Linked DNA regions of Homo sapiens: regions 2, 3, 4, 5 and 6 are each reported to be linked to region 1. The links are microRNA targets in miRTarBase. Many come from high-throughput screens and were not tested one by one. Region 1 holds a microRNA gene; each other region holds the end of a gene's coding sequence.
Evidence for each region. The annotated mature microRNA hsa-miR-3929 reads GAGGCUGAUGUGAGUAGACCACU and lies in region 1 at 3,683-3,705, shown strand. An mRNA with a match to its seed (bases 2 to 7 or 8) in the 3' UTR can be bound and repressed. Matches are read on the target gene's strand: a 7mer-m8 pairs with bases 2 to 8, a 7mer-A1 pairs with bases 2 to 7 and ends in A, and an 8mer does both.

Region 2: miRTarBase lists CDCP1 as a target of hsa-miR-3929. Seed matches in the 3' UTR shown: 7mer-m8 at 2,110-2,116.
Region 3: miRTarBase lists PAK1IP1 as a target of hsa-miR-3929. The part of its 3' UTR that is shown has no 7-base or 8-base seed match.
Region 4: the mRNA of SINHCAF is a reported target of hsa-miR-3929. Seed matches in the 3' UTR shown: 7mer-m8 at 4,134-4,140.
Region 5: miRTarBase lists ZMYM1 as a target of hsa-miR-3929. The part of its 3' UTR that is shown has no 7-base or 8-base seed match.
Region 6: the mRNA of DFFB is a reported target of hsa-miR-3929. Seed matches in the 3' UTR shown: 7mer-m8 at 1,177-1,183, 7mer-m8 at 1,312-1,318 and 7mer-m8 at 1,864-1,870.

What each region holds. Positions count from the first base shown.
Region 1 is chr18:35,932,718-35,937,792 of GRCh38, reverse strand. It overlaps MIR3929 (microRNA 3929), which reads left to right and starts at 3,651; the gene lies at 3,651-3,705.
Region 2 is chr3:45,080,846-45,085,920 of GRCh38, reverse strand. CDCP1 (CUB domain containing protein 1) reads left to right here. Exons shown (of 9, transcript NM_022842.5): 9 at 1-3,644. The coding sequence ends at 283. LOC124906233 (a long non-coding RNA gene) reads right to left here. Exons shown (of 3, transcript XR_007095898.1): 2 at 4,047-4,268; 3 at 3,346-3,664. Among named protein-coding and RNA genes, the nearest start is that of CLEC3B, 57 kb to the right of the region's middle.
Region 3 is chr6:10,709,091-10,714,165 of GRCh38, forward strand. It overlaps PAK1IP1 (PAK1 interacting protein 1), which reads left to right. Exons shown (of 10, transcript NM_017906.3): 10 at 148-692. The coding sequence ends at 362. Among named protein-coding and RNA genes, the nearest start is that of TMEM14C, 11 kb to the right of the region's middle.
Region 4 is chr12:31,278,385-31,283,459 of GRCh38, forward strand. It overlaps SINHCAF (SIN3-HDAC complex associated factor), which reads right to left. Exons shown (of 6, transcript NM_001135812.2): 6 at 2,200-4,487. The coding sequence ends at 4,328. Among named protein-coding and RNA genes, the nearest start is that of FLJ13224, 43 kb to the right of the region's middle. RefSeq lists a silencer at 571-865.
Region 5 is chr1:35,114,323-35,119,397 of GRCh38, forward strand. It overlaps ZMYM1 (zinc finger MYM-type containing 1), which reads left to right. Exons shown (of 10, transcript NM_024772.5): 10 at 1-1,537. The coding sequence ends at 937. Among named protein-coding and RNA genes, the nearest start is that of ZMYM1, 37 kb to the left of the region's middle.
Region 6 is chr1:3,882,823-3,887,888 of GRCh38, forward strand. DFFB (DNA fragmentation factor subunit beta) reads left to right here. Exons shown (of 7, transcript NM_004402.4): 7 at 685-2,607. The coding sequence ends at 919. Among named protein-coding and RNA genes, the nearest start is that of C1orf174, 15 kb to the right of the region's middle.

The sequences.
Region 1 (5,075 bases):
CAAGCTGGGGTTGGGGATGCTGTCACAGCTCACATGAAACTGTCTCCCACAGTTGCAGCTCCAGTCAGAGCAGGGTAGATGGGATGGTCATAGTCACCAGAAGTGAGCAGCTGGCTTTGGAGCTGGACTACCTGGGATCAGGTCCCTAGCTCCATCACTGATTAGCCATGAGATTTTGGGCACATAAACATTACTTTTCTTGTCAGTGTAACAGGGGTAATAATAGTGCTTACCTTATGGAGTGTTGTGATCAGTAAAGATTAGCTATGGTTATCCAACAATGCTCTCCTTGTTTAAACTGTGTGCAAATCTCCCTTTTATCTTTTAAGGTGGGCAAGACTTCTCGGTGTTTCTGTATTTCTCTTCTGTGCCAGCACATGCTCAATGAAGTACCCCTTCCCTTTCCAGTTGCATACTTTAGGGTTTTGCAGCTTAGCTGCCCTTCTGAGGACTCCCCCACATGGTTTCCCTCCTCCTTTTTCATCTCTCTGCTTCTCCACCTCCCTACCCTGTTTGTCCTCAGGGTACAGAGGGGCTGCAGAGTTCAAGCCCTCAGTGTGCCCTCCTGCTGCTGCTGACAACAACCCTGTGGGGCTGGGATCACATTGTACTTCCTTGAAAAACTCACTGCACCCCGCCCTACTTTCTTGCAAGTGCTGATGTAAACATTTCTCTGCCAGAATCTGATAACATTCTAACACTGCCAGTACATAGATTAATGTCAACACTTTTGGTGATGCTCTAAATACAGATAAGCTAAAGTGGTTCAGCTAATGTCAGCATTCAAGGGCCTAAACTTCCCAAACTGACTACAGCTGCTCTAGAGCTTACTTACTACTGCTAGGAAAAAGCGTCATACCTCCCAGCAAACATAGATATTTTTCTTTTTCAGATAGTAAGATACAGGTTGAGTTGAGTATCCCTTATCTGAAATGCTTGAAACCAGAAGTGTTGCAGATTTCAATATTTTTCAGATTTTGGAATATTTGCATTACATTTAGTTGTTCAGCATCCCTAAGTCAAAAAATCTAAAATTGGAAATGCTCCAATGAGCGTCTCTTTTGAGCATCATGTTGGTACTTAAAAAGTTTTGGATTTTAGAGCATTTCAGATTTCAGCTTTCCAGAGTAGGGATACTCAACCTGTAATAATTTTAACCTTGGCTGACAGAATGCTCGGAGCTAAATTGTATGTTCCAACCTAAGAGTTATACTTCACTGATGTTTTCTGATATATCCATCTTTTCCCCTGGATAATTAACTCTTATTTTATTATCCTAATATATAGGTATTTTGTTGTAAGCCATGTGAAATCCTTATAGAAGTAAGCAGTGCGTGAGTAGAAAATGATGCGTGAATTATTAGAGGTGTCATTGCCCCATGAAAATATACAACCTATGTTGGTTATATAGTCGTTCCTGAACACAACATCTTTCAAGGCCAGGATTTCTAAAACTCATTACATGAGTAGTTGGTAGTTTCCATTCTCTTTTGTTTAATATTTCAGAGGATATGTAGTATTTTAGTGAGGAGGTTTTGGGTGCAGGGTACTAAAAACCTAATCCAATGCACAGGTTTGAACATTAGATGGGATTCACTAAGTTTTTGCGACACAAATGCTTGGTGGGCTCCAGGTGTGGTTTGATCAGGGTTCTGGTTCTGTCTTAACTTCTCTTAGTTTCTCTTGCCCTGTGTGGGCTTTGTCTTCAGGCTGGCTTTCCTCGGCAGGGCAGGCCTGCCAGTTGTCTCTGATGAAGACATACTCTCTCTGCAGGAGTTCATCCCTGAACAAAATACCACAGCAAGGGGAGTGGGGGATGCCCTGATTGGGCTAGACTGGTCAGGCCCGGGCTGATGCTGGGATGCACGGGGGAGTCAACCCCACACAAAACCCAGGTGCTTCACAGTGGGGGTGGGGTGGGGTGGCAGACAGGAAGGGAGGTTTATTCTCACTCCATTGACAAGGCTGATGAAAAGAACCACTAGGAGAAGAGCTACTATAAAACTCTGCACATATAATTATTAGGGATGAACAATGCCAGGTTGTGCTTGATGGGCCTTCTAAGTCCTTTTGGAGCCCTCTCACTTTCTGGTAAGCCTTTAGACAAAATCTGCTTTGCGATGCCTCTAGAATGGGGCAGGTGGAAAGCTTCCTGCAATTACATTCCTTTTATATAATGTTTCTCCACCAGAGGTTTGCAGTTTTATAGGATTCACCTGCCAATTGGCAACTGATTTGAGACACGTTAGTGCATCAGCAGAAGTGGGGGACATGCCGAGGGAGCAGCCTGGTGCTTGGCGGAATGTATCCTCTAATCACTTTTCGCCAGAAAGACCCTTAAAGCAATTATACGCTTCTGCAAAGAGAACTGGAAAAGGGTTCTGGATACTTTCTCCTCTTAATTAACCAAAGAATATGCCAATTCTTTTTAGAAAGTAAACTTTTTTCCCTAGTAACTATATTGTCCCATATCTGGTTATAATTTGTGTCTGAAGTAAGTAATTAATAGAGGACTGCCAGAATTTATGAGAATAAGAAACCCCATGAGTTCACGCGTGCACACACACACACTCAGAGGACATTGATATAGTTTGGATACTTGTGCCCTACAAATCTCACGTTGGAATGGCAACCCCAATGTTGGAGGTGGGCCTAGTGGGAGGTGTTTGCATCACAGGGGTGGATCCCTCTTGAGTGGCCTGGTGCCATCCTTGCAGTAATGAGGGAGTTCTTGCTCTACCAATTCGCCCAAGATCTGGTTATTTAAAAGAGCCTGAGACTTCCTTCTCTCTCTTGCTCCCTCTCTCACTACGTGATATACTGGCTCCCCTTCACCTGCTGCCATGATTGGAAGCTTCTGAGGCCCTATGCTTCCTGTATAGGCTGCAGAAGCATGAGCCAAATAAACCCCTGTTCTTTATAAATTACCCAGTTTCAGGTATTCCTTTATTGCAAAGTAAACAGTCTAAGAAAACTGCTGTTTTCTTTACTTGTAATGTGCTTTTCACTGCCTAGCTAAAAGGAGACAATGGCCTCTGTAAAGCACCTTGTCATGGACAAGTGATGCTGGCATATCATTATAATTGTGACCTATGAAATCTTTGCCTATTCTCAGGTTTCAAATATTTTTCTCCTGACAGTTCTATATAGTATACCCTGCTTATCTGCTGGGGACATATTCCAAGACCCCCCAGTGGATACCTGAAACCATGGATACTAAAGAACTGTATATATACTGTGTTGTTTTCCTATATGTATTATTATAAAGTTTAATTTATAAATTATATTATATTATATATAATATTATATTATTATAAAGTTTAATTTATAAATTAGGCACAGGAAGAGATTACAGCAAATTATAATAAAACAGACAATTATAATGATATGCCAGCACCACTATTCTTGCACACTGGGGCCATTACGAACTAAAATAAGGGTTACTTGAACATCAGCACTGTGATGTCACGGCAGTTGATCTGATAACCCAGATGGCTACTAAATGACCCATAGGCAGGTAGCATCTACAGTGTAGATCCACGAGACAAAGGGATGATTCACATCCTAGGAGGGACGGGACAGATGGCCTGAGATTTCATCATGCTACTCAGAACAGCACACAATTTAAAACGTATGAGTTGGCCAGGTGCAGTGGCTCACACCAGTAATCCCAGCACTTTGGGAGGCTGATGTGAGTAGACCACTTGAGCCCGGGAGTTCAAGACCAGCCTGGGCAACATGGCGAACTCCTATCTTTACAAAAAATACAAAAATTAACCAGGCGTGGTGGTGCATGTCTATAGTCCCAGATACTCAGGGGGCTGAGGTTGGAGGATTGCTTGAGCCTGAGAGACCAAGGCTGCAGTGAGCCAAGACTGCGCCATTGCACTCCAGCCTGGGTGACAGAGTGAGATTCTGTCTCAAAAAAATTTTTTTAAAAAGGGATGAATTATTTATTTCTAAAATTTCTCTTTTAGTTTTTTGGATGTGAGTGGATGATGAGCCACATGTCCCTTTGGTTGGCTGAGGGTAACTGAAACCATGGAAAGCAAAACTGTGGTTAAAGGGGGACTACTATAATTTTAGCTGTATTATGTTTAGGTCTATCATCCATATTGAATTAATTTTGTGCATGAGTTGAGATAGGAATTGAGATTCATTTTCTTCCCCATATGGATATCTATTTTTCCAGCATCATTTCTAGAAAAGCGCTTACTTTTCCCATTGGAGCTTCGGTGGCTTTGTCAGTCATTAAGTAACCTTATAGGTGTGAGTCTAGGTCTAGGCTGCCTGTTGTGTTTTATTCATGTATTTGCATAAACTTGCTTTGTGTACATTAGCTTGGCTACTGGAGCCTCAAACTCAGGTTGTGGAAGTCCTCATATTCTGTCTTGTCAGTATTAATTTAGAGATCCTAGGACCTTAGTATTTCCATATAAATGTCAGAATCAATATGTCAGTTTCTCTGAAAACTTGACCTAATTATCAGTCAGATTGCATTGAATCTATAGATCAATCTGAGGAGACTGTATATTATAAAAGCATTGGGTTTTTCAACTTATGAACATGAAATGCCTCTCCATGTATTTAGGTCTTCTAAATTCATAGTTTTCTGCATAGAGTTATTAAATACCTTTTGTTAACCTTATTTCTAAGTATTTAATGTTCTAGATATCATTATAAATAAAATTGGTTTTTAAACTTTTTTTTTGCTGGTAGTAAATCGAAATATAATTGATTTTTTCAGATTGATCTTGTATTCTGTGACCTTGCTATTTTTACATAAATTCCTCAGGATTCTCTTTGCAAACAATGATGTCATTTATACACAAAGGGAGTTTTACTTCTTAATTTTCAATCTTTATGCCTATTATTTCATTTTGTTTTATTTTACTGCCTAGGACCTCCAGTACAATGTTGAACAGAAGTGGTGACAGTAAACATTTTTAGCTTGTTCTTGATAATAAAAGAGGACAATATTTCACCATTATCATAAATGGCAGTTGAACTTAGGGAAATAATGTTTCTGCTTATGAAATGATTACATATTTGTCTTCTCTTTCGTTTTGTTAATA
Region 2 (5,075 bases), not on the chromosome of region 1:
TGGGCATCTGCTACAGGATTCCAGCGGCTCCTTCCTGCAGCCAGAGGTGGACACCTACCGGCCGTTCCAGGGCACCATGGGGGTCTGTCCTCCCTCCCCACCCACCATATGCTCCAGGGCCCCAACTGCAAAGTTGGCCACTGAGGAGCCACCTCCTCGCTCCCCTCCTGAGTCTGAGAGTGAACCGTACACCTTCTCCCATCCCAACAATGGGGATGTAAGCAGCAAGGACACAGACATTCCCTTACTGAACACTCAGGAGCCCATGGAGCCAGCAGAATAACTTGATCCATTCCAGACGCTTTGCTGAGTTTCATAAAGCAGGGCACTGAGACACCCGTCCGTGTTCCTAACCAGAAATCCTAAAGAAGAGGAATTATACAGAAGGAACAGCAGGAGGTTTTCCTGGACACCGCCAACTTCACATTGCTCAGTGGACTCATTCTAAGGGCAAGACATTGAAAATGATGAATTCCAATCTGGATACAGTCATGACAGCTCATGTGCTCCTCAACTTAGGCTGTGCGGTTAGCCAGCCTGTAATGAGAGGAGAGAGGCCTGAGTCACCTAGCATAGGGTTGCAGCAAGCCCTGGATTCAGAGTGTTAAACAGAGGCTTGCCCTCTTCAGGACAACAGTTCCAATTCCAAGGAGCCTACCTGAGGTCCCTACTCTCACTGGGGTCCCCAGGATGAAAACGACAATGTGCCTTTTTATTATTATTTATTTGGTGGTCCTGTGTTATTTAAGAGATCAAATGTATAACCACCTAGCTCTTTTCACCTGACTTAGTAATAACTCATACTAACTGGTTTGGATGCCTGGGTTGTGACTTCTACTGACCGCTAGATAAACGTGTGCCTGTCCCCCAGGTGGTGGGAATAATTTACAATCTGTCCAACCAGAAAAGAATGTGTGTGTTTGAGCAGCATTGACACATATCTGCTTTGATAAGAGACTTCCTGATTCTCTAGGTCGGTTCGTGGTTATCCCATTGTGGAAATTCATCTTGAATCCCATTGTCCTATAGTCCTAGCAATAAGAGAAATTTCCTCAAGTTTCCATGTGCGGTTCTCCTAGCTGCAGCAATACTTTGACATTTAAAGAGAAATTTAGAGAATATTCTCATCCTCTAAAAATGTTTAAATATATACCAAACAGTGGCCCCCTGCATTAGTTTTCTGTTGCCACTGCAACCTATTACTTGGTAGCTTAAAAACAACACATTAGCTTATAGTCCTGGGGATCAGAATTCCAAAATGGATGTCCCTGAATGAAAATCAAGGTGTCAGCAGAGCTGTGCTCCTTCTGAAGGCTCTAGGGAGAAGCCGGTTCCTTGCCATTTCAAGCTTCTAGAGGCTGGCTGCATTCCCAGGCTCCAGTGGCTGGTCAAGCTTTTCTCACATGGCATCACTGTGACACTGGCCCTCCCACTTCCCTCTTTGACTTACAAAGCCCACCAGGAAGATCCAGGATAATCTCTCCATCTAAAGTTCCTTCATCATCCTGGAAGAGCCTTTTGCCATGCAAGACAACATAGCCACAGGTGGGGATTAGGACCAGAACATCTTTGGGGTGCTGTTATTCTGCCTACCACACCTTCCTGCCACTGACTCCCACAGGAGAGGCTACAAAATGATCTGGCGCACAGGGATGTTTTGTTTAGCTTGCGGACTCTAACACTTAAAAAAAAACCCAGATCAGAAGATCTGGCCATGCTGGGGCTCACATTCTCACCTAGCAACAACTGGCTGGAGCTGGGCACCAGCTCTGCCTTTAGAAGGGGTGTCCACTTCACCAGGTCACCACAGCCCACACTACGCCCTATCACTTCCCACAATGAGGCTGAGTGTTTGTTTCTACTGATCAATGCCCCTGCAGGTTGCATTTATTGTAATGAAAAAGAAAGACTGGGATTAATCTCTAATCAGGTGAGTAGACCATGAGACCAATGTGTGCTCACATTACCCTTTTTCTTTTTTTTCTTTTTCTTTTTCTTTTTTTTTTTAATGTGAGACAGGATCTCATTCTGTTGCCTAGGCTGGAGTGCAGTGGCGCAATCTCGGCTCACTGCAACCTCTGCCTCCTGGGCTCAAGCAATTCTCCCACCTCAGCCTCCCAAATAGCTGGGATCACTGGCACAAACCACCATGCCCAGCTAATTTTGTATTTTTTGTAGAGACAGGGTTTCACCATGTTGCCCAGGCTGGTCTCAACCTCCTGGGCTCAAGCAATCCTCCTGCCTCGGCCTCCCAAAGTGCTGGGATTACAGATGTGAGCCACCGCATCCAGCCCCACACCCTCATTTATACCAATTACCTGCCCAGTAACTGTGGACTTTTGCTTCCTCACCCCTGCTCTGATCTGGAAGGAGAGGGATTATGTTATAGCTTGTCAGCACAGTCCCAAGTTCAATATTTCTGCGGCAAAAACTTCCTTCAAAAAATAAATGTACTTCATTGTATTCAATGAATTCACCTTGGAAATGCACCGCCTCAACTTGTTCACATGGCATAAATGAAAGGAATTTTATAGTCTCCTAAATGGCGTGTACTGCAAGACCTCTTGAACACTTTCCAGAGGATAGGATATTTAAGTCATGCCCTTGGCGTTGCCTATGGCACCTTTCCCTTCTGAAAGTCTGGTTCCTGCCCAGTGACCCTTGGCCTTGTGAGCCGAGATGCTGACCCTGCATAAAGGGCCAAAGGAGGGCTGCGGCTTCCTTCCCTCACTGAAGAGCCCTTATTTGAATTCACTGTGTGGAGCCCTAGCCCTCCATTCTCGACATTCCCCAACCTCCCAGCCCCTTCCAAGCAGGACTAGGTGCCCTGCATTCCACCCAAGGTGGGATTGGCCTTCCTTAGGCTGGCTACTTGTCACCATCACCGACATCACTGTTGCCTGCAAGGACACCACGTGGCCATTTTCCTTCAACTGAGGGCTCAAAACTCCTGGACAAGTTGCTGGCTCCTGAGACCAGTATTTCCTGGAGCTGTGCCTCAGTGAAGGGGCCCAGCCTGAGGAACCCTGGCTCTTTTCTTTAAAGCCCAGGCCCCACTTACGTAAAACATTTCAGGGTCACTGGAAACAGTGAAGTGCCATTTGTTGAAGCCTACTGCATGCCAGCCCACTGCTCATCCACGTGGTCTGCCATGCCTACGAGGAAGGCCAGCGCATGCAGGACTGGTCTCTAATGCTGTGGTCATTGCACAGAAGGGAAAGGTCTCAAGGAAGAGTCAACTGGAACAAGCACAAGCCCACCGGACATGGCCTTGGTAAAGGTTAGCAGACTGGTGTGTGTGGATCTGCAGTGCTTCACTGGAAATAATTTATTCATTGCAGATACTTTTTAGGTGGCATTTTATTCATTTCCTGTGCTTTAAATAAACAAATGTACCAAAAAACAAGTATCAAGCTGTTTAAGTGCTTCGGCTACTTGTCCCCTGGTTCAGTAGAGGCCCCGGTTTCCCAGTTGTTGACTGTGACAGGCTCAGCATGGGCTCAGCAGATGCTGTCTTAATTTGTGGATGATACAGAAAGCCAGGCTTTGGGATACAAGTTCTTTCCTCTTCATTTGATGCCGTGCACTGTGTGAAGCAGATGTTTTTGTCCGGAAATAAAAATAATAGTCTTGGAGTCTCGCCACCACTGGTTTTCAAGTCTCCCTGTATGCAAGTGGAAGGAATGGAAGCTATGCCAATGGGTAGCTGAGAGGCCAGGGCTTGTTCTGTTCTGTTCTGTTCTTGTGGGGGCTACATGGGCCCCACCCTTTGTGACCTTTCCCAATACCTAACCCCCATAGAGGCCCAGGGCCACCCTAATCACTGACCACAGTTGATCTCTAAGCCCCGTGGAGGTCACCAGCCACCAGAACAAAAGTTAAGGGAGAGCAGTGAGAGAGGGAAGTTCCCATGGCCCCCACCATCTGCCATGCACTAGGAGGGGAGACCCAAGCACATTGGATTGAATCCACCGAGAAAACCAGATGTTGCTGTGTAATGAGCCACCCCAAAATTTAGTTAACAATTAGTAGTTTTGCTCACAAACCTGTAATTAGAGCAGGGTTCAGCAGGGACTGTATATCTCTCCTCCATGTGGCCACAGCTTGGGCAGCATAATTAGAATCCTCTTTCAAGTGGGCTCCATGACACTGCTGACAAGTTAGTGCTGGCTATTGGCTGGGAGCTTTGACTCCTGGTCACTTGGACCACTGCACAGGGCTTCTTCACAACATGGTGGCTGGGTTCCACAACTGAGTGCTCCCAGATTCTAAAGGTCAGAACAGCCAGTCTCTCAGAGGCTGGAACTGGACACTGGCATGACATTACTTCCATTCTATTCCTTTTTTTTTTTTTTTTTTTTTTTTTGAGACAGGTTCTCACTCTCTTGCCCCAGCTGGAGAACTCCTGGGCTTAAAGCGATCCTCCCACTTCAGCCTCCCGAGTAGCTGGGACTACAGCCATGCACTACCATGCCCAGCTAAACTTCCATTCTATTCTATGGGGGGCATTAGTCACAGAACCTACTCCGATTTACATGGAGGAAGCAAAGATTCCCCCACCCCATCTCAGTGGGAGAGGTGTCAAAGAATTTGCAGCCATCTGTAATAGGCTTCAGTGGGGCTGGGGAGATCACAGCCAAGTACCATGCCTGTGGACAGCACTGACCACCTTCACTACTGCGTCCTTGATCACCATGACCACATCTGGGCTGCATCCCACCTCTGACTGCCCCTTCTCCTGGATCCTGTTCCCAGGACTCAAGGTTCAGTCTTTGGTCTTCTGGCCTTTTCTCTCTGGACACTGCCCCATAGGGAGGGTACTGTCTTAGTCCATTTGTGTTGCTATAAAGGGATACATAAGCCTGGGTAATTTATGAAGAAAAGAGGTTTATTTGGCTCATGATTCTGCAGGCTGTACAGGAAGCATGAAACCCAGCATCTGCAACTGATGAGGGCCTCAGGCTACTTCCCCTCATGGCAGAAGACAAAGGGGAGCCTGCATGTGCAGAAATCACATGGTGAGAGAGGAAGGGAGAGAATGGCAGGGGAAGGGGTGGCGCTAGGCTGTTTTCAAC
Region 3 (5,075 bases), not on the chromosome of region 1:
TTGTTTTGAAATTTTGAATAATCTATTATCTCTTAAATTGTAGAAGTGGAGGAGATCCAGATAATTTCACTTTATTGACAGCTTGTGTTTATTTCATTCAAAGGGGAAAACAGTCTTTTTTTAAAAGCACTCTCTTTTGTGTTTTAGTAAGTAAAGAACAGTCCAAAATTGGCAAAAAGGAGCCTGGTGACACAGTGCACAAAGAAGAAAAGCGGTCAAAACCTAACACAAAGAAACGCGGTTTAACAGGTGACAGTAAGAAAGCAACAAAAGAAAGTGGCCTGATATCAACCAAGAAGAGGAAAATGGTAGAAATGTTGGAAAAGAAGAGGAAAAAGAAGAAAATAAAAACAATGCAGTGAATCACAGATGTCTCCTGAAAGAACTCTTTTAGATGAAATCATTCTACTCAAATGTACCTTAATTTTTTTTTTTTCCCTGAGTAAAAGCAAGAAATTTCTTCCTTTGGAAAAAATATATATATTAAAAAACCACTTTTAGATGGTTTTTTTTAAAAAAAAAAAAAAAACTGGTAAAATTACTTTTGGCAGACAGTGTTTTATGAATTATGTATCATGTTGATATATAATATGTTAATGTGTCATGTAATTTTTACTTTGTACAAAGCAAATAAAGATCTTTCTCAAAATATACTGTAAAATAATATAAAATATTGAACACATTCTTTATCAGATTTGGATGAAGGAGTCATTATTCAAAATTTTCTCTTAAATGGGAAAGAATTTAAGAACTGCCTTTGGCTTCTTCAAATGGTAAGTAGTAATTTTAGATTTTCATACCAACCAGACAAACTTAAAAGATTATACATATATAATTATACATATCTATGAAACAAACATATGCTTAAGTGTAGGACCACGTACCTAAGATTATAGAGAGATTGCCAGACTTTAAACTACTTTGCTTCCAAGTAGTAGATGTACAAAATAATTTAAGGACGGGAAAATGATCTTTTCTTTTTTTCTTTTTTTTTTGAGACGGAGTCTTGCTCTGTTGCCCAGGCTGGAGTGCAGTGGCGCGATCTTAGCTCACTGCAACCTCCGTCTCCTGGGTTCAGGCTATTCTCCTGCCTCAGCCTCCCGAGTAGCTGGTAGCTTGAGCCAAGGAGTTTGAGACCAGCATGGGCAACATAGGGAGACTGTCTCTCCCAAAAAATTAGCTAGATGTGGTGACATGCTCCCAGCTACTCAAGAGGCGGAGGTGGGAAGGATGGCTTGAGCCCAGGATGTGGAAGTTACGGTGAGCTGCGACTGCACCACTATACTCCAGCCTGGACAACAGAGCCAGACCCTGTCTTAAAAAAAAGAAAGAAAGAAAAAGACATTATTGGGGATCCATAGGTTTGAATTAGCCAGGCAGATACTAGATACCTGAGACCATCAGGAGAATCACTTCTGATTAGGCAGAATAAGAACGGGCACTGGAATTGCCACTCCATAGGAATAAATTGTCTAGGAAATGAACCAAATTGTGTGCTTAATATCAGTCTACTCCTTTGTTAGCTTATTTCATAAGCTATTAGCATAAATGTAGGTCGTTGGCTTTTTTTTTTCTCAATTCAACTCAAAAATTTTGAGATCATTGTGAGAAATATACACTTGTAAGAAATAATACAGAGATTCCACCCGGTTTTCCCAATGATAACATCTTGCAAAACAAGGGCAATATCACAACCAAGCCAAGATAGGATAGAAATGATATAATCAAGATACAGAACATTTCTATCACAATGATCCCATCTGTTGTCATAAGCCATATTCAGTTTCCTCTTGTGCTCGTATAGCTATGCCCACCTTCATAACCTCTGGCACCAGCGGTCTGTTCTCCATCTCTAATTTTGCCAAAATTGATTGGATTATACTTTCTTTTGGGATTGGCTTTTCACTCAGCATAATCTCTGGGCATTGATCCAGCTTGTTGCATCAATAGTTCTGTTTTTAGTACTGAGTGGGATGTCAGTATAGATGTACCATAGTAAACACCTGTGGAAGGACGTCAGGAATGTTTCCTGTTATTAGGTATCTAAATAAAGTTGCTGTAAACATTTGTGTACAGGTTTTTATGTGAACTAGAGTCTTCATTTCTCTTGGATAAATGCCCAGGAATTCCAAAGTTTTCCAGAATAGCTGTATGGTTTTACATTTCTACCAGTAATGTTTGAGTGATACAGTTTCTCTGCATCTTTCCAGCATTTGATGTTAGTCTTAGCCATTCTGGTAAGAGTGTAGTGATACCTTATTGCGGTTATAACTTACATTACTCTGATAGCTAATGATGTTAATCATCTTTCCATGTGCTTATTTGCCATCTGTGTATCATAATTGGTGAAAAGTCTTTTGCCCATGTTCACATTATATATTTTTTCTTTTTTGCTGTTGAATTTTGAGAGTTTTTTGTTTTTGTTTTTTTTTGAAACGGAGTCTTACTCTGTCACCCACCCAGGCTGGAGTGCAGTGGCGTGATCTCGGCTCACTGCAACCTCCACCTCCCAGGTTCAAGCGATTCTCCTGCCCCAGCCTCTTGAGTAACTGGGATTACAGGTGCGTGCCACCATACCCAGCTAATTTTTGTATTTTTAGTAGAGGTGGGGTTTTACCATGTTAGCCAGCCTGGTCTCGAACTCCTGATCTTTAGTGATCCACCCGCCTCGGCCTCCCAAAGTACAGGGATTACAGGCGTGAGCCACCGCACCTGGCCAAGAGTTCTTTTATATATTGTAGAAACTCAGCCTTTCTCAGATAATGTGGTTTGCAAATATTTTTGCCTAGTCTGTAGCTTGTGTTTTTGTCCTAACAGCCTTTTGCAGAGCTCAAGTTTTTTATTTTGTTGAAATCCAGTTCATCAATTTTTCCTTCCATGGATCATGCTTTTGGTGTGAAGTCCAAGACCTTTGTCTAGCCTTAGATCCTGAAGAGGTTCTATATATTTTTTAAAGGTTTTGTAGAGTTTTACATTTTACATTTAGTATGTGATCCATTTTGAGTGTATAAAGTGTGAGGTTTAATTCCAAGTTTATTTTCTTGCCTATGGATATCGACTTGCTCTAGCGCCTTGTTGAAAAGACTGTTCTTCCTCTATTGAAATACTTTTGCATCTTTGCCAGAATTCAATTGAGCATATTAGTGTGGGTCTATTACTGGGCTCTCTATTGTGTTCTATTGATCTCTGTTGATATTTTTGCTGGAACCACATGGTCTTGATTACTGCAGCTATATAATAAGCCTTGAATTTGAGTAGAATGATTCTCCCCCTTTTCTGTTTTTCAAAATTATTTTCACTATTCTAGTTCCTTTGCCTTTCCATATAGAATTTAGGATAATTCTATCCTTCTCTACAAAAAAAAAATGTACAGTCATGTCAATAATGACAGGAATACATTCTGAGAAATTCCTCATTAGGTGATTTCATTTTGTGTGAATATCACAGGGTGTACTTACACAAACCTGGATGGTAGAGCCTGCTGCACACCAAGGCCATACGGTATAGTCATAATCTTATGGGACCACCATTGTATATGTGATCCGTTATTGACCAAACCATTATTGACCAAAATGTCATTACGCAGCACATGGCTGTATAGATCTTTGATTTTTTTATTATTTTATTTTTATTTTTTTAGACAGTTTTGCTCTTGTCACCCAGGCTGGAGTGCAATTTTGCGACCTCAGCTCACTGCAACTACTGCCTCCTGGATTCACGCAATTCTCCTGCCTCAGCCTCCCGAGTAGCTGGGATTACAGGCACACACCACCACGCCCGGCTAATTTTTTTATTTATAGAAGAGACAGGGTTTCGCCATGTTGGCCAGGCTGGTCTCAAACTCCTGACCTCAGGTGATCCGCCCGCCTTGGCCTCCCAAAGTGCTGGGATTACAGGCCTTAGCTACTGCGCCCAGCCAGATCTTTGATTTCTTTTATCAGTGTTGTGTAGTTTTCAGCATACAAATCTTGCACGTGTTAGATTTATTTGTAAGTATTTGGGGTGGGGGAATTACAAGTAATTTTTTTTTTTTTTTTTTTTTTTTTTGAGATGGAGTCTTGCACTGGTGCCTGGGCTGGAGTGCAGTGACGCCATCTCGGCTGACCGCAACCTCTGCCTCCTTGGGTTCAAGCGATTCTCCTGCCTCAGCCTCCCAAGTAGCTGGGATTACAGGTGCCTGCCACCATGCCCGGCAAATTTTTTTGTACTTTTAGTAGAGATGGGGTTTCACTATATTGGCTAGGCTGGTCTCAAACTCCTGACCTCGTGATCTGCCCACTTTGGCCTCCCAAAGTGTTGGGATTACAGGCATGAGCCACTGCACCTGGCCTACAAGTGATATTTTTAATTTTGGTGCCCATATTCATTGCTAATACATAGAAATACAGTTTATTTTTGTGTGATCTTACATCCTGCTATCTTGCTGAATTCATTTATTCTAGGAGTTGTTTTGTTGGGGGTTTCTATGTAGACAATTATGTTATCTGCAAATATAAATAGTGTTATTTCTATCTGTATTTTTCCCCATTTTCTTGCCTTATTAACTGACTAGAAGATGCAGCACTGTGTTGAATAACAATAGTGAGAACAGACATCTTTGCCTTGTTATGATCTTAGGGGAAAAATATTCAGTCTTTCACTGTTAAGTATAATGCCAGCTGTAGGGTTTTCGTAGATATTCTTTGTCAAGTTGAAGAAAGGTCAACTTGACATCCCCTGTTTCATTCCTGATATTGGTAATTTGTGTCCTCTCTGTTTTCTTTGTCAGTCTTCCTAGAGCTTTGTCAGTTTTATTATCTTTTCAAAGAACCAGTTCTGCCAGGCACGGTGGCTCATGCCTGTAATCCCAGCACTTTGGGAGGCCGAGGTGGGCAGATCACCTAAGGTCAGACGTTCAAGACCAACCTGGAAAACCTGGTGAAATCCTGTCTCTACTAAAAATATAAAAATTAGCCGGGCATTGTGGCAGGCGCCTGTAATCCCAGCTACTAGGGGGGCTGAGCCAGGAGAATCGCTCAAACCCGAGAGGCGGAGGTTGCGGTGAGCCGAGACTGTGCCACTGCACTCCAGCCTGG
Region 4 (5,075 bases), not on the chromosome of region 1:
ACAAGCAGTTTCTAACCAGGGTGTAAGGTATTTGATACCTAAAGCATTCTCATGACTACAATGAGTAACCAAACTCCACAGCTTGAGAAATTGTTAGACAGAACCCGCAGATCCCTTTCTTTGAGAACATGAGCCTGTGAAATTATCTATCTTTGATCTAATTTGGCTTTCTCCTCCCTTCCGAGTTCACTGAACATCACACAAAAATGATTGCCTGGCCACTACAATGCTAAATCTGGGGCACTAGGAAACTGTTCTAGGGACGCTGAATAGAAGAGCTCCCAGGGTACCTTCTATTGTTCACTGCAGAGCAGCCACCTTGATGAATTGTTTTAAGATATCGTTTCACTAAACCTCCAGCAGTTTTCTCCACAAAAAGACAGATAATAGGTACTTTGAACATTATCAAAATTAAAAAACAGAATTTGATTTAAGTTAAAGATCAACGTATCTGCAAAAGTTAAACTTGCCCCTCATTTCAGCCTTCAGAAAGAAGGGAGGCAAGAAGAGACCCAGGGAATAGTTTCCAATGAGGGTTAGGACAGCATTACTGCAGCAGACAGGAGACAGTTTAGAGAACAAAGGCTTTCAAATAAGAAAAGCAGATTCTTTCATTCAAGTTACATGACCTCCTGGCACCTCCTCTTACCGGTAAATAGATTTTTTTTTACTTTGCAGGGTTACTTAAACAATGTTTAAAAGTGTCTGGCCCAACAGTAGGTCTTTTCTTTTTTTTCTTTGGAGGTGGAGTCTTACTCTGTCACCCAGACTGGAGTGCAGTGGCCCAACTCAGCTCACTGCAACCTCTACCTCCCAGGTTCAAGCAATTCTCCTGCCTCAATCTCTCGAGTGGCTGGGACCACAGGCGCATGCCACCATGCCTGGCTAATTTTTTTATTTTTAGTAGAGACGGTGTTTCACCATGTTGGCCTGGTTGGACTTGAACTCCTGACCTCAAGGGATCCACCCGCCTGGGCCTCCCAAAGTGCTGGGATTACAGGTTTATATAAGCCACAGTGCCCAGCCAGGGTTTTTCATATTGTGAGAGCCATTTTTCTTTTTACTTGCTACACAAAGCATTTGCATTGTAGGGCGAGACGACCAATTTAAAGAGATTCAGTTAAAAAAAAAAAAAGCTGTGACAAACTCTAGGTGCCTTCCCATTAGCCCCACCCGCACCTCTTGGTATCCAATCCTTCGTATGAGCCTCTCCCCTTGGATATGGGCAGGACCTGAAAAGACCCCTCTTGCTGGCAGCTTGGCTCTCGACACTTGCTGGTAGTGACAGTAATCATGTCAGTGGTCCAGTCAGCAGCCAGGCCATGCAGGGAGCACCCAGCTGGCAAGGAACTAAGCGGGGGCCTCCAGCTGACAACCAGTGAGAGGTCTGGACACTCAGTCCTGCAGTGGCAAGAACTGAATTCTGCCAGCCGAGTGAGGCTGAAATGAGTTCTTCCCAAATCACCAGGTGAGAATGCAGATGAGACCATGAGCTTTCTAAAGGACCTATCTAAACCATGCTCAGACAGAAACTGAGACGCATTTGTTTTAAGCCACTAAATCTATGGTAATTTAGGACATAGCAATAGATAATACTGGTACTATCAACTTCCTTAGTTACCTTGTTAATTTCATAGTAACTGTATTAGGTGGCATCCAGACTATCCCAAATTTAAATACTAACAGTAGTATAAAAAGTCTGGCCCTTTATTACCTTTCCCAGGTAATAAAACAACTGGTTTCTAAAAGTTTGATATGGATTACACCTCTTAGGATTCCTCATAATCCTGTGAAGTAGATATTCCCATTAATTATTTAACTCAAATGACTAACAAGGGGCAGAGCTAGGAACTTGAGAACCAGCATCCAACCCCTGATGCCACCACCCTTCCAACTTTTATAGTTTCCCTAAAGTCTCAATGATGCTTCCCACTATGCCCATAGATAGTAATAAAACCACAGACAGTAAAAAGTACTGGGAACATTTTGTTCTTCCTTTTAAATCCATCTTATCCACTAGATTAATAATTGTGCACATCAGTTAAAATGTCTTTTATTCCAAAGTCTATGTCTCAGTGAAGAGGAATTTATTCCCTTCATGGCTTGTTATTAATACTAAGCACTTAAACTGAGTATATGTGAAAGCCAAAAACATTATTCTTACTGAAGACCTGTCAAACAAAGCCACAAAACAGCTCCTTTTATTTTCTAGTAAGACTAGATTTATTCAATACCCTAGTAAAAGTTTTGATTATAAGTATCCAACAGTATAAAAAGTACAAAACAGATCTGTAGATTTCTAATATATTAATACAAAGTGCATGACTACATACAGTACATCCTACAGGCAAAGAGAGGTGGAAGGGGAAAAAGAAGACTGTGGTTGAGGTCTAGTAATAAATAAATAAATACAGAAGTAGAGATGATCCATATTATAGTATATTCTACCACCAATACTGCAGCCAAAATGTACAAAAAAAATCATTTCAAATAACTCAGGAGGATGATAATGGCTGGACTTTTGTAATTCACCTCAAAGACTGTGGGAGAGCCAACTCAACTCACTGTATAGTCTGTGCATATGGTGGCTTGTAGCATGTAGGTTTTTTCCAAAAGAAGGAAATATAAAATGTTTAGATTAAGAACTATAAAACTACAGGGTGCCTATAAAAGGTGGCTTACTCCTTATTGTTATTATACTATCCAATTTTTAAAATGCAGTTTAAAAAATAAGCACTGAGTCTTGTTATTACAAGGCAGGCAAATGTTTCTCCCTCATTTTGAAAAGACTGAACTGGCAATGCTTTTCCTGAACATTTAGAAAAGAGGCAGTAAGAGTACTCTGGTTTGGGTTCAAGTGAGAGGCTTTTCATGAAAATCTTAGGATTGAAGAGCTCTAAGTTCAGGATATCTCAATGTTCAGAAAGCCTGACTAAAAGAAGCCAAACCAAAACCATTTAATGTGAACACAAACCTCTTTTCTTTTAGTAAGTTTTACTTTTAATACAGAGTGAAAGAAAATAAAAATTTAATAGGCTAAAACAAGTCAAACACCCATTCTACACAGATAAAAACCTTCACAAAGGTCAACTGAAGTAATCCAGAGCTGAAACTGAATTGTGCAGATTTTCAATGAAGTCACAGAAGTCATGTAACACAAACAAAAGTCGATTATATTTACACACTCAGCAAGCCCTCTAAGAAATGTGCCCCAAGAAGCATTAACCTTTGTTTTGTGCCATCCTGAAGACTTGCACATTTTATTTTTCAGATAGCTTAACATTTTTAATCGAGTGTGTTCTCTACCATGCGGTAATGCTTTGGTACTATTCATACAGGGTCTTGCCTATCCTAAAGACTTGCCATTTCCCCAAGAGGAGCTTTGATTCTGCTTTAGAAGTTTTACATAAATTAAAATCTTTATCAAATATTAATATGAAGGGAGGCACAGGATGCAACATATATAGTCAAGTTACCTCTCTGTATATTTAGAAATTACTTTCTCCTCCAAGGTATTTGCAACAGAAAGCTCAGTCTGTCCTGCTTAATAATCAGTAGTACAGGTGTGAATCATCAGAAGCTTGGCAAGACCTTAATATTTCAAAATTATTAACAACTACCTCTAGGGGCAAGTTCATGTTACTGAGTTATGACAAATTTATTATCATGAGGGAAAACAAGAGTAGCCAGCCATCTTAAAAATGCCCCAACCACTGCTTCTCAAAACAGAAAGACTAAAAACTACATACAGTTTATCATACAACAAATCCCATCTCTGTCCCCTGAAATTCCCCTAGTTTCATTCATTAGAAGGGGATTAAAAAAAAAAAAGACTTAAAGAGCACTTTACAGCAGCATTCAGCTTTCCTATGAAATACTCAGCATCTTAAATATTATATACAACTCTTTTTTTAGTAAGCTAGACACTGGCTTCAGAGTTTGTGGGAGTGGGGGAAATCAACCCATTCAAAACTACTCTAGAAATTGTCTTTTGGCAGAATAGCAGGTATCCAAGTTAAAAATAAGAGGGTCATTTAAGACCAGCCTGGCCAACGTGGTGAAACCCCGTCTCTACTAAAACTAAAAAATTAGCCGGGTCTGGTGGCGGGCACCTATAAACCCAGCTACTTGGGAGGCTGAGGCAGGAGAATCACTTGAACCCGGGAGACGGAAGTTGCAGTGAGCCAAGATCACGCCACTGCACTCCAGCCTGGGTAACAAGAGCAAAACTCCGTCTCAAAAAAAAAAGAGGGTCAGTTTGTAGCTTTGTGGTTTTTCAAAATTCAGATATTTTTTTTTTTGTTCCCCTTCTACATAAAAACCTCAGTCACCACTCCTGAGTGGAGATGGGCAGAGGCTCTGGCCCCTGCTCCTCTGGCTTCTCAGCAGCTGCTTTCTTATTGCTGCAGCAAGGCTTGAAGAGATGTGTGTCAATGAGGACTTCCCCAAAACGGCCTTTATAGATGATCCCACAACATATCTTCTGTCTAAAAGAAAAAATGGAGAACAAGATACATTAATAAGGAAGAAAAATAGGAATACAAAAGAAATCTACTCACTATTATAACTAGTCCAATATAACCAAAGAGTTGTGCTTCTACAATCTTGCACATTCCAAGTGAAAGGGCTCCTAGAGTAACCCCAATTAGCTAGAGAAGGGGAATTACCCAGTTGCCTTAAAGGCCACACTGGAATCTTCTCAAATATTGAGGAAGACGGCATTTTGAAAGACAGCAGTCAGTTTCAAAGGCTGCCCCTGATGTTGTTAACTATTTCCTCCAAAATCACCAACTCTTGAAAAAAAAATCAGCCACCATAAACAGGCTGATGCAGCTAGCAATTTTTTATATATATTTAATTTTTTTTCTTTATCAACTCCTAAGTGCTTGAGTGGTAATTTTTAATTAAATACTGAGTAGATAAAAATACATGTGTGGGCCGGGTGTGGTGGCTTACACCTGTAATCCCAGCAGTTTGGGAGGCTGAGGTGGGCAGATAACTTGAGGTCAGGAGTTCGAGATCAGCCTGGCCAACATGGCGAAACCCCATCTCTACTAAAAATGCAAAAATTAGCC
Region 5 (5,075 bases), not on the chromosome of region 1:
AGTTATAGCAAGCCATTCTTCAAATACAAGTTTCGCCGATGAATTGAGTCATTTGCTGACATTGGTTTCCAAATTTGAATTTGTCTTTTGTTTGAAATTCCTGTATCGAGTGCTGAGTGTTACAGGAATTCTTTCCAAAGAGCTTCAAAATAAAACCATAGACATTTTTTCTTTGTCTTCAAAAATAGAAGCAATTTTGGAATGTTTATCATCTGAAAGAAATGACGTATACTTTAAAACAATCTGGGATGGAACAGAGGAAATATGTCAAAAAATAACCTGTAAAGGTTTTAAAGTTGAAAAACCTTCTCTTCAGAAAAGAAGAAAAATTCAGAAATCAGTAGATCTTGGCAATTCAGATAATATGTTTTTTCCTACTTCAACAGAAGAACAATATAAAATTAATATCTATTACCAAGGATTAGATACTATATTACAAAATTTAAAGTTATGTTTTTCGGAGTTTGATTATTGCAAAATAAAGCAAATTTCAGAACTGTTATTTAAATGGAATGAACCATTAAATGAAACAACAGCAAAACATGTTCAGGAATTTTATAAACTTGATGAGGACATTATCCCAGAACTTAGATTTTATCGACATTATGCAAAGCTTAACTTTGTCATAGATGATAGTTGCATAAACTTCGTCAGTCTCGGCTGTTTGTTTATTCAGCATGGTCTTCACAGTAATATTCCTTGTCTCTCAAAGCTATTATATATTGCTTTGTCTTGGCCAATTACTTCAGCAAGTACTGAGAACTCATTTTCTACCCTGCCTCGTCTTAAGACATATTTATGTAATACCATGGGACAAGAGAAGCTTACTGGCCCAGCCCTAATGGCTGTTGAGCAGGAGTTGGTAAATAAACTAATGGAGCCTGAAAGACTCAATGAAATTGTGGAAAAGTTTATCAGTCAGATGAAAGAAATATAATACATGCTCATTTGAACTTACCTAAAAGACTTGTATTTCCATTGGGATGTTTTCATTTCAAAATTGTTCAAAATTCAAAAGACACAGAACGATAAACAGTGAAGTCTCCTTCCCTCCTTTAGAACTCATTTTCTCTTCCCAAAAAGTGTTATCTTTTCCTTAAATATCCCTCTAGAGGTATTTTTCCTAAGTGGTATTGTACGGTGTATACTGTTCTTCAGCTTGTCTTCTCTGTGTAACATATTTTTGAGATTGTCCCATGTCGTTACATGAAGAGTTTCTTGATTCTTGGTCTATAATTGCAGATGTTATTGTATGAATGTACCATAATATATTTGAGCAGTCCCTGCTGACATTTTTTTCCTAACCTTTTGCTATTATAAATAATGATTCATTTTATAACCTTTTATATAGGTCACATTGCACATGAGTGAGTTTACTGTAAGCTGGAAATCTAAAGTTAGAATTACTAGGTTAAGATATGTGCATTTTTACTTTTGATAGATATTGGCAAGTTGCCATCTATAAGGATTGTGCCAGTTTACAGTCCCACCCACAATGCATGAGAGTGCCTATTAAATCTTTGTAAGTGTTATCAAATGTTTTGATCTTTCCTAATCTCTTACTTTAAAAATGGCGTTTTAATCTCAGTAGAATTTTGTATATTCACTTAAGAATAAGGTTGGGGACTGGGCGTGGTGGTTCACACCTATAATCTCAGCCCTTTGAGGGCCTACACAGGAAGGAAGATCGCTTGAGGCCACGAGTTCAAGATGAGGTTGGCAACATAGTAAGACCTCATCACTACAATTTTTTTTTTTTTAAATTAGTGAAGTGTGGTACTGCACACCCGAAGTCCCAGCTACTTGGGAGGCTGAGGCAGGAGGATTGCTTAAGCCCAGAAATTTGAGGCTGCAGTGAGCCATGATTGCACCACTATGCTCCAGAGTCTAGGCAACAGAGTGAGACCTTATCTCTTTAAAACAAACAAGAATGAAGTTAGGTATCTGTTTATTTGTTTGAGCCATTTGTATTTCCTTTTTTGTAGACTGTCCTGTTTAAACGTTAAAATCACTGCTGTGGTTTTGATTTATACATCTCAGCTGGATGGCACAATAAATTATTAAGCCATGTTATGAAAATATAACTATATTTAAGTAACCTGCAAAGAAAAGACTATTTCTTTATACTTCAAAAAAGTTTTGTTTTTGTTTTGAGATGGAGTTTTGCTCTTGTTGCCCAGACTGGAGTGCAATGGTATGATCTCGGCTCACTGCAACCTCCGCCTCCCAGGTTCAAGTGATTGTCCTGCCTCAGCCTCCCAAGTAGCTGGGATGACAGGCGCACGCCACCACGCCTGGCTAATTTTTGTATTTTTAGTAGAGATGGGGTTTCACCATGTTAGCCAGGCTGGTCTTGAACTCCTGACGTCAGGTAATACGCCCACCTGGGCCTCCCAAAGTGCTGGGATTATGGCATAAGCCACCACGCCCAGCCAGAAAAGTTTAAATAACAAAGAAAATGTGATATTCAAAGATTTGAAAGAATTAAGTGGTATATATATCTAGGCCTGGAATTTTTTTTTTTTTTTTTTTTTTTTTTGAGACGGAGTCTCGCTCTGTCGCCCAGGCGGGAGTGCTGTGGCGCGATCTCCGCTCACTGCAAGCTCCGCCTTCCGGGTTCACGCCATTCTCCTGCCTCAGCCTCCCGAGTAGCTGGGACTACAGGCGCCCGCCACTGTGCCCGGCTAATTTTTTGTATTTTTAGTAGAGACGGGGTTTCACCGTGGTCTCGATCTCCTGACCTCGTGATCCGCCCGCCTCGGCCTCCCAAAGTGCTGGGATTACAGGCGTGAGCCACCGCGCCCGGCCTTTTTTTTTTTTTTAAAGACTATTTCTCTGGCACTTTTCTCCAGCTGTTTCTCCCTTACCCTCTCATCAATTTTGATAACTTGTACTTTTTCTAGGAGAACATCTATTTCATTGAGGCTTTCTTTCAAATGCATTTGCCTAGAGTTGTAGAAAATATTCTCAGTATCTTCTATATACCTGTTTTACTTTCTTTCTTTCATTTTTTAAGACGGAGTCTCGCTCTGTTGCCCAGGCTGGAGTGTACGGTGGCGTGATATTGGCTCACTGCAACCTCCACCTCGCGGGTTCAAGTGATTCTCCTGCCTCAGCTTCCCAAGTATATGGGATTACAGGTGCCCACCACCACGCCTGGCTCATTTTTTTGTATTTTTAGTAGAGATGGGGTTTCACCATGTTGGCCAGGCTGGTCTCGAACTCCTGACCTCAGGTGATCCACCCACCTTGGCCTCCCAAAGTGCTGGGATTACAGGCATAAGCCACCATGCCCGGCCCTAATTTATTGATTTCCACCTTAAAAAAGAGAAAACAGGCCTGGCGCAGTGGCTCACACTTGTAATCACAGTACTTTGGGAGGCCGAGGCGGGCAGATCACTTGAGGTCGGGAGTTCAAGACCAGCCTGACTAACATGGAGAAACCCCGTCTCTACTAAAACTATAAAATTAGCCGGGCGTGGTGGCACATGCCTGTAATACCAGCTACTCGGGAGGCTGAGACGGGAGAATAGCTTGAACCCCAAAGGCTGTGGTTGCAGTGAGCTGAGATCGTGCAATTGCACTCTAGTCTGGGCAACAAGAGAGAAACTCCGTTTCAAAAAAGAGAGAAAATAGGCTGGGGACGGTAGCTCACGCCTATAATCCCAACACTTTGGGAGGCTAAGGCAGGCGGATCACAAGGTCAAGAATTCAAGACCAGCCTGGCCAACATGGTGAAACCCCATCTCTACTAAAAATACAAAAAAAATGAGCCAGGTGTGGTGGTGGGTGCCTGTAATTCCAGCTACTCAGGAGGCTAAGGCAGGAGAATCACTTGAACCCAGGAGGCAGAGGTTGCAGTGAGCCAAGATCGTGCCATTGCACTCCAGCCTGGGCGACAAGAGTGAAACTCCGTCTCAAAAAAAAAAAAAAAAAAGAAAATAGAAGTTAACTCTAGTATTGAATGTGTGTTGCATATATTTTCATTCTTTTAATGGAAGTGCTTAAGGCTATGAACTTTCCTCTAAAGTCAGCTTGGTCAACCATGTGTTTTTTCATTTTCATCATTTTCTAGCTGTTTTTAGTTGTAGTTTCTATCTTGTCATAAAATCAAGAAGTTGGGCCAGGCATGGTGGCTCACGCCTGTAATCCCAGCACTTTGGGAGGCCGAGGTGGGCGGATCACGAGGTCAGGAGATCGAGACCATGGTGAAACCCCGTCTCTACTAAAAAAAATTAGCCAGGCGCAGTGGTGGGTGCCTGTAGTCCCAGCTACTGGGGAGGCTGAGGCAGGAGAATGGCGTGAACCCGGGAGGCGGAGCTTGCAGTGAGCCGGGATCGCACCACAGCACTCCAGCCTGGGCCACAGAGCAAGACTCCATCTCAAAAAAAAAATCGAGGTTGGTGTTCTTGTTTTCATTTTCAAGTGTTTGTTTTCTATTCTTGTAGTCTATTATACAGCCAATAATGTAAAAAATAAACTTACATTAAGTATAACAGCTATCTTGGTTGAATGCCTATTAGCCTATTAAGTAACCTAGTACTTCCCTCAGTGTTTTACATATATTATTTCATTTAGTTCTCATAACAACCTATTATTTTACAGAAGAAACTAAAAAAACACATTATGGATTACACAACTAATAGGGGTGAAACTGGATTTGTACCCAGGTAGTCTGACTCCAAAGCCCATGCTGTCAATCACCATGCTCTACTACCTCTTAGACAACCATTATCACTTATAAATATTCCTAAATAAAAGATTATCAGAAGTCCATTAAAAAATAGATGGCTGGGCATGGTGGCTCACACCTGTAATCCCAATACTTTGGGAGGCCGAGGCAGGTGGATCACCTGAGGCCACGAGTTCAAGACCAGTCTGACCAATATGGTGAGACCCCATCTCTACTAAAAATACAAAAAAATGAGCCAGGCATGGTGGTGCACACCTGTATTCCCAGCTACTTGGGAGGCTGAGACGGGAATCGCTTGAACGTGAGAGGCAGAGGTTGCAGTGAGCCAAGATTGCGCTACTGCACTCCAGCCTAGGCAACAGAGTGAGACTCTGTCACAGAA
Region 6 (5,066 bases), not on the chromosome of region 1:
GGCTCTGTTTGTAAAACTTTCATGTTCTATCATGTAATTTTTTGGGGGTAAATGTATACGTAGATGAAACGTGGAGGCAGTTAAGCCAGTTGTTGATGGTGGGTGACTGTAAGTGATGGAAAGGTGGTTGACCCCCTTTATTTTCTGCGTACTTTTCAGTATTCTGAACAGTGACACGAGTCTTTTTTTTTTTTTTTTGAGATGGTGTTTTGCTTTTGTTGCCTAGGCTGGAGTGCGGTGGCGTGATCTTGGCTCACTGCAACCTCCACCTCCAGGGTTCAAGTGATTCTCCTGCCTCAGCCTCCCAAGTAGCTGGGATAACAGGTGCCCACCACCAAGCCCAGCCAATTTTTTGTATTTTTAGTAGAGATGGGGTTTCACTATGTTGGCCAAGCTGGTCTCGAACTCCCAACCTCAAGTGATCCACCCGCCTCGGCCTCCCAAAGTGTTGGGATGACAGGCGTGAGCCGCCGTGCCCGGCCACAAGTCAAGTTTTAAAAAGTAAGAGGAGCCAGGCTGCTTGCATCAGGCTCTGCTCAACAAACCTGGCCAGTAGGTGCGGCCGTGTGTCCGTGATAGCACTTAGGGGAATTTGTGAAGAGCTGTGACTGCAATACACTGCTATGACCTGTTGCCTGTGGCACTGTGACCACAGAAAATGATGTCTCTAACCTTACTTTGCAGAATAGAAAAGAAACGCACCATCATTCCTACACTGGTGGAAGCAATTAAGGAACAAGATGGAAGAGAAGTGGACTGGGAGTATTTTTATGGCCTGCTTTTTACCTCAGAGAACCTAAAACTAGTGCACATTGTCTGCCATAAGAAAACCACCCACAAGCTCAACTGTGACCCAAGCAGAATCTACAAACCCCAGACAAGGTTGAAGCGGAAGCAGCCTGTGCGGAAACGCCAGTGACACGTACACACCACGTCCTGGTCTTTGTTTGAGGCCTGACGTGGGCATCATTTTAACAGGTGCCTTTTTTGTTTTTTTGTTTTTCGTTTTTTTGGTCACTCCAGTAGCTCCTGGAAAAAACCTTAAAAAATGTTTCCTCCAAATCTGATTTCATTACATTTCTGAATTGTTGGGGTTTTTTTTGTTGTTTTGTTTTGTTTTGTAGATGGAGTTTCACTTTTGTTGCCCAGGCTGGAGTGTAGTGGCGCGATCTCGGCTCAGCCTCCCGAGTAGCTGGGATTACAGGCATGTGCCACCACGCCCGGCTAATGTTTGTATTTTTAGTAGAGACGGGGTTTCACCATGTTGGTCAGGCTGGTCTCAAACTCCTGACCTCAGGTGATCCGCCCACCTCAGCCTCCCAAAGTGCTGGGATGACAGGTGTGAGCCACTGCGCCCAGCCTGAATCATTTCTTATACCTTCTGACAGCCCAACTTCCAGAGGACAGCTCTGGGGTACTCGTTGGATGTCTGTGAGTACCTGGTCATACGGGTCAGTAGGGATAAGAATTGTCTCTGGGCTGAGGAATTCTTCTGTTCTCTGGTTTCACCAGCGTTGGGTTTGCTCATGTAATGTGGTCACCATACTCAAATGGTGTCATGGCTGAAGTTGGCCACCTTGCTTGAGGGACAAGTTGTTTATGTATCAGCTCTCTGCTGGGTCTCCCTTTCCATGGCAAATGGGCAGCTCCATCCTCTTGACTCTTCTAAATGCCCAAAAGAGGTGTCATGCTTTGGGGGTACGATGTTTATACTCCGTAAAGAACATACAAGGACATTCACTGCTGATTTTTTTTTTTGTTTGTTTGAGACAGGGTCTCACTCTGTCGCTCAGGCTGGAGTGCAGTGATGCAATCTTGGCTCACTGCAACCTCCGCCTCTCAGGTTCAAGTGGTTCTCCTTCCTCAGCCTCCCAAGTAGCTGGGATTACAGGCACCTACCACCAGGGCCAGCTAATTTTTGTATGTTTAGTAGAAACGGGGTTTCACCATGTTGGCCAGGCTGTTCTCGAACTCCTGACCTCAGGTGATCTGCCCGCCTCGGTCTCCCAAAGTGCTGGGATTACAGGCATGAGCCACTGCACCTGACCTGCTGAATTGTTTATAATGGCAAGAAATAGGAAACCCCCCAATGTCTGTTGAACAGCTATCACGTTGAACCACGTGAAACTGCTGTTTTCTAGGCCAAAAATGGTGAGCGATCATTTATTTCATGATTCAACCTGATACATTTACATAGTGCAAAACTGTGTCACAGTTTCAGGCTTTTATGAGGAAAGCGTTTCTGTGTAGAAACTGGAAGCTGTTCAGGGCATCGGCAGCTGAACCCTGCTCCGTTGGTCAGCGTTACTATCATCTCGGATCATATGGAGCTCATGTCAGCCGTGTGGGTGGCGGGTGCACAGAGACGGTCTGGAAGGAAACACGCGGATCTGAACAGCAGTAATCCTGGGGGATACGGGGGTTGGGCTAGATTACAGAGGGCTCATTTTCTACGTCATGTATTTTATGATACTTGAATTTTTTGAAATGGGCATTTATTTTATAACATGTTAAAATGTACTTTTTAAATTAAGTCATTTTGTAATATTTGAATTTTTACATTTGTTGTACAATCAGGAAAAGCAATAAAGATTTTTCAAAAATAGACATGTCAAGAAAGTTTGCACTCATTGAGGATGCTGAAAATAAGGATAAAAATAAGGAGTCTGTGATATTTTACAAATTGACTTCATTTACAAATTGAGTCATTTTACAAATTGACTTCAATTTTACAAATTGACTACATTTTCTTCACAGAGCTAAAGCAATACCTTAGAATTAACCCAGTCCTGTGTGGGGAATTTCTAGAAGTCCCATCTATGGTACGGTGATGTTTATCTGCTCTGATCAGGGAAGGACAAACAGTGGGAGAGTCAGGGCCTGGGAACCGGGGGGCCTGGTCCCTCTTCTCAGATCCCTCTTGCAGGGTCTGAAGAACTCTCTGGAGCCAGCAGATCCCACCTGTGCAGCAAGGAGCCTGGCCCGGACAGCTGTGAGGCCCTTCCAGCTCCATCGCTCCAGCCTCAGGAGACGAGCTGCTCTGTTTAACAGCCACAGACGTGGGCCTTTTTCAGAGACACATTCTTTTGTTGTCTGTCTGTTTTTTAAGACAGGGTCTTGTTCTGTCATCCAGGCTGGAGTGCAGTGGTGTGATCTCAGCTCACCGCAGCCTTGAACTCCTGGGTTTAAGTGATTCTCCTGCCTCAGCCTCTGCAGTAACTGAGACCCCGGGCATGTGCCACCATGCCTAGCTAATTTATTTTTATGTTTGTAGAGATGGTCTCACTATGTTGTCCAGGTTGGTCTCAAACTCCTGGGCTCAGGCGATCCACCCACCCTGGCCTCCTGAAGTGCTGGGATTACAGGCGTGAGCCCCTGCACCCGGCGCAAGACACATTCTTGAGGGAAGTCCTTCCTTCTCAGCGGTCCAGGCATGCTGTGCCACCTTGCCCTGGACACACAGGGCGGCTATCCCTCTACCACGTGGCTCCACGGTGCTGCCCCACTGCCTACGACTAGGCCTAGAAGGTTTTGTGTCCCTCAGGCTTTCTGCGCCATCCTGCTGCCGTTGGGCCTTGTCCGTGCCCCTCCTCACCCTTCCTGACTTGAGGCTTCATTTCTGCAGGAGTTGAGACACCGGAAACCCAGGCTTGTTGAGCTGTGTGTGAAGCGTGCAAGGCTCTCCTGGCTGTGACATGGTGTTTTGGTTGTTTTTTTCTTGCTTCCGGGCCCTTGGCTGGGCAAGGTGCTGGTGATTGTTACAAAGAGCTATCACCTATCAGGAGTTATGTCACCCAGAGTCTCAGGTTAGAAAAGGTGGCTGAACCTCTGCAACAAAGAAAGAGTGTGTGGTCTGTGCATTCTCACACAAGAGGGAGAAAAGTTCTAGGAGCTAAGAGTGTGGAATTCTGTGATCTGTGGGGCTGAGGGTCACCTGCTGGGAGGTCCTGGCATCAGTAAGAAGCTTCCAAGGGAAGAGCCCAGTAAAGGCCTGCAGACGGCCTCAACCAGCTCAGTGCCAGGCTCCATCCAGACGGCAAAGCTGCAGCAAACACGACCACAAGACATGGCCCTCCTGCAGCTCAGGAGGAAGCGCTGTAGGCAGAGCCACAGTCGGCCTGCGCCAGGGGGTGTGCGTGAGCACAAATACACTCTTTTGTATCTTATCTTTTATTCCCTCATTCGCCCCCCTTTGGTCAGTCCCCCTAGGTCTGTGCAGGCTACAGTCCACATGTAGACTAGGAAGTGTTTCTACCTGGCAGTGCTTGTTAGTGCAGGTTAACCACTGTGAGTGAATAGGGGTGGCCCCAGGAACACACACACTTTCCACTCTGCGTGCTGCGTCTCCTCTGCAGGTGTATCATCATTTGGGACAGTGCACCTCACTGAAGTCTGCTTAGAGGATGGCAAAATTCTCGTCACCACCAGGATAGGTGCTGTCATTTAAAAAAAAAATTTTTTTTTAATTTTTTGAGACGGAGTCTCGCTCTGTCACCCAGGCTGGAGTGCAGTGGCGTGATCTTGGCTCACTACAAGCTCCGCCTCCTGGGTTCACGCCATTCTCCTGCCTCAGCCTCCCGAGTAGCTGGGACTACAGGCACCTGCCACCACGCCCGGTTAATTTTTTTTTTTGTGTTTTTAGTAGAGAGGGGGTTTCACCAGGTTAGCCAGGATGGTCTCGATCTCCTGACCTCATGATCCGCCCGCCTCAGCCTCCCAAAGTGCTGGCATTACAGGCGTGAGCCACCGCGCCCGGCCAGGTGCTGTTATTAATAGTTATTCATGCAGCAATCTGAAGTTGTACTTTATTTATTTATTTATTTTAGAGGCAGAGTCTCGCTCTGTTGCCCAGGCTGGAGTGCAATGGCGTGATCCCAGCTCACTGCAACCTCGGCTTCCTGGGTTCAAGTGATTCCCCTGCCTTAGCCTCCCAGGTAGCTGGGATTATAGGCGCCCACCACCACGCCCGGCTAATTTTTGTATTTTTAGTGGAGACGGGGTTTCACTATGTTGGCCAGGCTGTTCTCGAACTCCTGACCTCAGGTGATCTGCCTGCCTCAGCCTCT